Linked DNA regions of Homo sapiens. The protein of the gene in region 2 interacts with the protein of the main gene of each other region in a pairwise test. Each region holds a gene or a part of one and is shown on either strand. Other genes may lie near its edges.

Evidence for each region. Proteins that work in one complex are often made in the same cells at the same time.
Region 1: the proteins of KIF26B (region 2) and MAP4K4 interact in a two-hybrid assay, tested with the Homo sapiens proteins (one large-scale study listed by BioGRID and IntAct).

The regions. Positions count from the first base shown.
Region 1 is NC_000002.12:101,696,207-101,699,806, reverse strand, and holds the start of MAP4K4 (mitogen-activated protein kinase kinase kinase kinase 4), read right to left. Parts: upstream 2,101-3,600; 5' UTR 1,727-2,100; coding exon 1,670-1,726; intron 1,543-1,669; exon of another isoform or gene 1,365-1,542; coding exon of another isoform or gene 1,335-1,364; coding exon 1,269-1,334; intron 1-1,268.
Region 2 is NC_000001.11:245,682,795-245,686,634, reverse strand, and holds part of KIF26B (kinesin-like protein KIF26B), read right to left. Parts: exon of another isoform or gene 2,403-3,840; coding exon 2,240-2,402; exon of another isoform or gene 2,184-2,239; intron 1,231-2,183; coding exon 1-1,230. UniProt on the Homo sapiens protein: Essential for embryonic kidney development. Plays an important role in the compact adhesion between mesenchymal cells adjacent to the ureteric buds, possibly by interacting with MYH10.

The DNA.
Region 1 (3,600 bases), on a different chromosome or scaffold from region 2:
GCTAATACACTTGAGATCACCTAAGAATACTGACCCAAGTTCGGACCACAGTCCAGTACAGTACACTACCCAGGCTAGAAGTCTAGGCTAAGGAGAGGCGTTCAAGTGATAGATAAACTCTACTCACAACGCAGAAAAGAGACAATAAGATCCACACTTAATCTAGCCTAAGAAAAGGTCTACAGTCGGCTTCCAACCCCCCCAACTCCACCCATTTTTAATGAGACAATGACAATTCTTCATGGTGAACCACAGAGCCCTGCTTCCCTAACCTTGTACCGACTCTAACAGAACACTCCCCCAGTGCAGATTAAACTTTTAGAAAACGTTCAGTATTGAGAAACAAATTAAGACAGGAAAAATTTAACATTCCGTTCTGAATTTTCAAGGCCTGCGCCTCCATTCCCTACACATCTTTCATAATCTCTAGACTGTACAATGTATAAAATGAACACTGTTAGTCACATCAGGTGTCAGCTACTCAGCGCAGACTCAGTCTCCAGATTTGCTAGTTTCATTTATCGCTGGGGTGGAGGGTGGGTGTTAAAATTTTGAAAAAAGAGAAAGACCTGGGTGGGTGTAAACCAGGGCATCCTCTATATTCTCTTCGCTCTCTGTCATTTCTGTTTCAATTACACAGCTGTCAAACAGGTTATTCCTGGAATTCAGATTTTATAATCCCCACACTGTAATTCTTCCTGCTGCTGTTGCCCAAACACACACTCCTCCCTGCTTCCCCAAAATACGTATCCATCAATAGAAAGGATGACAACCACAGTTATAAAGTATTCCCAGGTAACGCCAAACTCCCCACCTTGAGCAACTGGCAAGCACTGAGTGGAGGCTGAAACATGATGACAATTTTCACGATGGCCAAAGCAGTGGTTTAGGATCGTCAGAGGCAAGGCCCGCCTCCACTGTATTTCAATTTACACACAAACTCAGAAGGCCGGATTTGGGGAAAAAAAGAAAAAATTCAGGTTGTCTTATTTTTAAAAAATGCTTTTCCATTTTATCGAAGTAAAGTGCATGCCTAAGAGTGTAGCTTATTTCCTTATCTCAAAGCCAGGAAATGAGGTCTTTTAAGGCCAGTCTGAATATAAACTCGGTGTGCAAAAACAGAGGGACTGCAAGGCGAAAGAAACCCCTCTCCCAACTTTGGCCAAGCGGCGTGGCCTCCAGTCAGCAGCATGTTTATCACCCTCTCCTCGTCCCCCAATAAGAAGTTTCCACATGCCACGGGAAACAAAGAAGGCGCCCACACCGACCTTATAGACTTGTCCATAGGTGCCATTTCCAACCACTTCCACCAGCTCAAAAATCCCAGCAGGATCCTGGAGAGGAAGGAGGGGAGGGGTTATCATTTAAAAGAAGCCAAAAAAATGAATAAATCAAGCAAGGCAGTTGGAGAGAAAAGGCGGTGACAAAAGAGGTGGGCTTCGCCCCGCGCGGTCCCCCAGCGCCCGGGGGTCGCGCGGCGGGCTCGGGGCGTGGGGGCGGTAGAGGGTAGCGCCCGCCCCGCACCAGCCCGCACAGGAAGACAAAGGGGCCGCCGCGCCCCGCGGCTCTGCCCACGGCGGCGCCCGAGCGCCCGGCCGACCTGGGCGCGGCCCCGGCTGCCGGCTGCCGGCTGCCCGCTCCCCGCGCGCCCGCTCGCGGGCCCACTCACCCGCAGGGAGGAGAGGTCGATGTCCACCAGACTTTTTGCAGGGGAGTCGTTCGCCATTTTCCCTTTTTGCCACCAAAAAACAAATAACAATAAATGTCTCTGTCGCTCTGTGTATCTCAGCCGCAGACCAGGCCGCCGACCGCGCTCCTCGCGCGGCAGCCGAGCCGGCCCGGTACTCTCCTCGCGGGGCCGCGGGCGGCGGCGGCGGGCTCGGCTGCGCTCTCGGGCCGCTCGGGGCTCTCTGCCGGCCGGGCCGCGCGGAGGGCGGACGGAGCGTGCACGGGCGGCGGCGCTCACACCATGGCGCGGGGCCGGCCGTCAGGCCCCCGGGCGTCGCCCGCCGCCTCAGGCCCCGGCGCCCGCGCCCCGCGCCGCGCGCCTCGAGGACGGGCCCGGAGCGTGGGGCCGCGGCGGCGCCGAGTTGAGCGAGTGAGCGCGAGGCAGCGAGACAAAGATAACCCGGGAGGCGGAGGCGGAGGCGGGGAGCGAGGTGGGGAGGGAGGGGGCGGCGGCGGCGCTGGAGGAGGAGAAACGGGACACCAAAAATATATTCTGAGGAGAGAGAAAACAGCTCCCCCTTTCCTCCTCAGGCAGGAAAAACCGGCGGAAACGCACTCACACCCCGAGCCCTGCCGGGTAGGGCGCGGGCCGAGGCGCCCGCGCGGCGTGAATATTCATCAGGGGTGGGGCTCGAACAATGGCCGCGCCGGCGGGCAGCGCGGGCAGCGGTCCCGACACGACGCCCGGCGCCCAGGGTGCGGCCTCCGCGCTCGACCCCGCACGGCGCTCCCGAAAACTGCAGGAGCGGGGAGGAAGCGGGCTGGGATTTCCCCGGGGAGGAGCTGGGGTGGGGAAACGCCCCTACCTCGCGCTAACAACAAATGACACGAAACTGAGCTGGACCGACACTAAGAGGCCATGGACCCTCGCGTCTCCCAGGGCAAGGGTGTGTCCCGCCGGCCGCGTCCCGGCTCTAGAGGGACCCGAACCCGGTGTTGCCGAGCGGAGGAGGGGCCTCCCTCGATCCTCGCCCCCTCCTCGCCCCATTCGCCCCATCCCCCACTCTCCCACACCCTAGAGAGGAGACCCTTAAGTCCCTCGTTTCCGGCTTCCCTGCACGGTTTTCTTTTCCTTTCTCTGCTTTTGCAGGCTAAATGTGTGGTACGGTTGTGGTTGTAGTTGTGGGATTCGCTGAGCATCGCTGGGCTGCCCGGCCATATCCAAAACAGCTCCTGTAATTGTCTGGCGCTGCGCTCCTGGCTGCGCTCGGTAGGTGAGCACTGTGTTTGGGGCCCTTAGTACCAACCCGCATTTTGTAACCTGGAGATCACTAAGGATCAACCAACAGGTTTCTTCCGGCAACCTCGGAAGCCAGTCGGTAGTTAGGCACTTTAATGCCAGTGAATCAACAGTCATTTATATCGCATTCCTCCACCGTCCAAAAACTTTCAGTGGTTCCCTGTTACCTGACAGGTGTTCTCAAAACGTGAGTGCTTCAGGCAAAGTGCCAATTGCCTGGCCCTGCCTCCCGAGTTCTCGTTTCAGGAGGTCTGCAATGGGCCTGAGAATGTGCATGTGTAAGTTCTCAGTGTAGCTAACGTCGCTGTTACAGGGATCACTCGTTGACAACAGTGGCCTCCGGCTATTCATGATTGGATTTTCATAAACATCACCATCATCATCTACCAATTCTTATGCACATACTGTGTCTCCCCCACACAAACGCGTTGTGCCGAGTGCTTTACACACAGCACTCTATTTACAGCCTTGAAGGAATGTTATCCTCCTTTTAGGTAAGGAAAGCAAAGTACTGAAAGATAAGGAGTATGTCCAAATTCCTTAAAAGCACAGCCTGGAAGTGGAGCAGGGATTTTCACCAGGTTAGCCTGTTCCCAAAATCCAGATCTCTGATTCAGCCAAGTTAGCTCTAC
Region 2 (3,840 bases):
GCAGTCGCTGTTGAAGCTGATGATGCTGGTGGGGCGGCCGCTGTCCAGGACCCCGCTGATGGTCAGCTCCTCCACCAGCGTGAACACCAGCTCGTCCTCACCGTTCAGCTCCAGTGGCTGCTGCACCGTCACCATCGTGGTGCTCAGGATCTCCTTCTTGGACTCTGAAGGAGTAGCTGCCTGCTGCTCATCATCGACAGGAGTTTCCGGGAACCCTTCGCTCCCAGCAGACATGGATTTTTTCAAAACCTGGGGGCTCATTCCAACCGGGGGCGTACGCACCTCGGGCTGCAGCAAGGACTCCCTAGACGCCACGCCGGAATCCTTGCTCGAGGGAGGCAGTGGGGCGGGAGACGGCAGGACCCCCTTCTGGGTGTAGACTTTGCATCTCTGGGAAGGAGAGCTGGGTGGCTTGTACTCCGAGGTCTTGGACAGGCTGGCGATGCCCAGCCGGGGGGAGCCCATGGGCCTGGGCTTGCCTTCCACGAAGCCGCAGGAGTTGAGGCTCTCCCGGCTGCTCTGGAGGCTGGGGCTCTGCACGAGTGGGGAGGCGCTGTGCTGGCTACTGCTGCCCGGGACGCTCCTGGGTGAGGCCGGGCTGGGGCTGTGGGCGGGTGCCGCGGCGGGCACAGGTGAGTGACTCCTCTGCATCTTGGAGGCTGGGAGTTCAGGGCCTTCTCTGTTGGTCAGCTGACCTTCGGACCCATTATCTTCCTTATCAGACTCAGAGAGTGGGCTTGCCCCCGCTGCTTGGCTTAACCGGGGGCCTCTGCTTGCCTGCTCTGGCCCAAACTGAGCAGGCAGTTCTTCGAAAGGAAAGCTGCTGGGCTCCTCGCTGCCGTCGATGCAGTCCAGCCTCTCCTGCAGCTCGGCAAACGTGTTGCACTTCAGGCAGTCCCTTTCTGACTTGCCGGCTGCAGCCTCTCCTGCCTCTGCGGGCCGGCTGTCGCCCCGGGTCTTCTGCAGGGCTGGCACGATAGGGACAAAGTCTGGGGGGCCCTCGTTGTCGGTGAGCTCCTTGTCAGAGAGGGCCGTGCCGTTGGGCCCGATGTAGATGACGGTGTCGCAGGACTGCTCGCTGCTGGAGGAGTAGTCGGGGTCGCTGGACAGGTGAGCGATGGGGAAGTCAGGGTCCACCGTGGCCCTGGTGTGGAAGGGTCTCAGCTGGGTGGGCCTGCGCATGCGGCCTTCTTCGCAGGAGCTCTCCCCGCCGGACGAGCTGGATGTGTACTGTGAGTGAGACGGCAGTTAATGTGGTGGCCTTTCCGTGGCAGTTTCCCCGGGAGCCCAGCTGTGCGCGGCAAGTGGTGAAGGCCCCTGACGACACAGGCTACTGACAGCCACCCCCGTTGGCCTCCCGCACGTGGGCCACTCGGGGTGCCATGCCCGCGCGCCCGGTGTCACATCACCACTGCATTTGTGAAGGGGAAGCCCCGTGTGGCACGCTGGGGAAACAGCTGCTCAGGAAAGGGGGTGACCATCCAGGCCCTGCCTGACCAGCTAAGGGCTGCTGGCTCACCAATGTTTGGCACCCTGTGCCGTGGAACTCTGGTTAAGAAACGCTATTTAAAGATAAAAAAGGTACAAAACAGAGAAGGGGGAAAAAGGCCCCCACCTCAGCAGCTGCCCCTGCCACTGAGTGGCCACGATCATGATGGTTTTCTCAACTACTTGCCACCCTGCCACCATCCTGGCTTGGCCTCTGCCTGAGAAAATGAGCCCAGCGATGTCCAGCAGACTCAGTATCATCCAGAAACCACTGAATTGCCAGGACAAAAGCAGCAGCCAGGGAGTGACTCCTGGACATGCAGCAGGGGAGGGGCCCTGAGAGCAGGGAGTTGAGAACCTCTTTGGTGCCAAGCCTTCGAAGGACACAGTCTCCACCTACGCAGGACCGAGGCCATGCATGAGAAAAACAATATTTTCCATCCCTCCAACGTTTTTCCTCTTGAGGTAGCAATCCATTTGTACTCTCTAAAGCGGACCAAGTGCTTCCGGTCAGGGGTCCAGGCTGGGTGACCAGGGCCAGCACCAGGTGTGGGGAGGTGACATGACTTTGTATCAGCCCCAAGGTTTCCCTGCCCCAAAGTGGACCCTGAGCCACGTGTTGTCAGCTCCAAGTCACATCTCCTGATGCTGGGGGATTGGCAACGTTGATTTGGCTTTTTCTGACTCTGTTCCAGGGCACGGCTCCAAAGGCTCCCTCATCCACCACCCCCCCACCCCGCGAGCTCCTTACCTTCGTCTTCTTTTTCTTCATCCTCAAGACTCTCGATGCAATCTGGATGGTGGACAGGGTCTCCGCGTAGCTCCCGACCGCGGCCGAGATGTGCGCGATCATGGTGGTACGGCAGTTCATGTTCCCCAGAGACTCCCGCAGCAACATGGCGAGCTTGCTCTCTCTGCCAAACAAAGTGAATTAGGCTGCATTAGCGGCCATGCTTCCCTGTGGCCCTCAGGGCAGGGCTTCAGGCCTGCACACGGCCATTTTGTTGTGGGTGGTGGTCCCCCCACCCTTTTTAATGGCATACTAATTAGCATCATTTTCCAGCATGGGGCTATTTGTAGTTGGCAAGCACCGAGCAAGTGCTTCTAACTCCAAGATGGAATCTGTGCAAAGCACCTCCCTTGGCGCTTCTGTCCTGGCTGTGATGGGATGTTCCTGGGCGTGTGTGTCTGTGACATTATACATAATGAGGCCTGGGAATAGAAACAAGAGGAGGGGATCAGGAGAAAGGGCTCTGTGCCTGGTGACTCGGCTTGCTGACTGCACGTGTGGCCTTTCTCCAGGGTTTCCACACACAGACAATCTTGCAACAAAAAGGAGTCCCCCTGCCACGAACCTGGATTAAAGATCGGTGGGTTTTTAATACCTGCACAGTTCCTTTAGCCAGGAAACTGCGGCTACTTTATTGGCATTGTCCCTTAACTCGCATATTTGCACCTAGTAGCACTGAAGGAAAAGGCATTCATATTCCTGAAGACTAGGGGAGAAACACAGAGAGAGGCCCAGCCAGTCACTCTATCCACAACAGAAAGCAGCACTTCCTATAGAGAGGCCTCCTCTGGCAACTGTGCAGGTGCTGTGCGGGGCCACTGCCCTGAGTGGTGATAATGAGGCCCTGGGGTTTGCAGGGAGTGTTGCTACGTCTTTGAATAGACCTGGAGAAATGGCTGGTTTTCTGTTCCTGTACTCGTCCCAGCATTTTTCCTGCCTTGCTTTTAAAGGCCTCTGTTTATTTCATCAACAGCACTCATACTCTCAACTGCTGCCAAATGTCATTGCATCTCTGGCACGTTCCCTGATCCTGAAGGGCTGAGGAAGCCTATTTCCCATGCCGCGTGCTCATATCTCCATGCTGTGTCTGCGATTCCAGATGAGAGGAATTCGTCCCCATGTCCATGTCTCATCACCCATCCCCTGCAAAGCTCCCTGGAGAGGGACTATCCAGCTCAGCAGACACTATGGGAGACTCAGGCCACTGTCAGCAGAGAGCAGACCATTTTACACGTGACCTGCTTCTGGCCTCAGGGAGGGAAGACTGTGGGGTAAGAGCAATAGCTTTTCCTTCTCATCTGGGATCAATTAAGGTGTAAGTTTGGCGACGCTGGGCTAAAGCTCACTTCCAGAGCAATGTAAGAATATACCAGGGCTTCCCTTCCAGCAAAATGACCAGTGATGAACGTGGCGAGGTAAGGGATATAGAGGAGGAGGAGGAGGAGGAGGAGCTGTGAAAGTTTAACTCCTTCAGAACGTTATCTGTCTAGCAGAAACCCACGGACAGCCGCACTCGACGAGGAAGCCAGGCCCCATTCCTGGCACACATTCTTAGCAGAGAC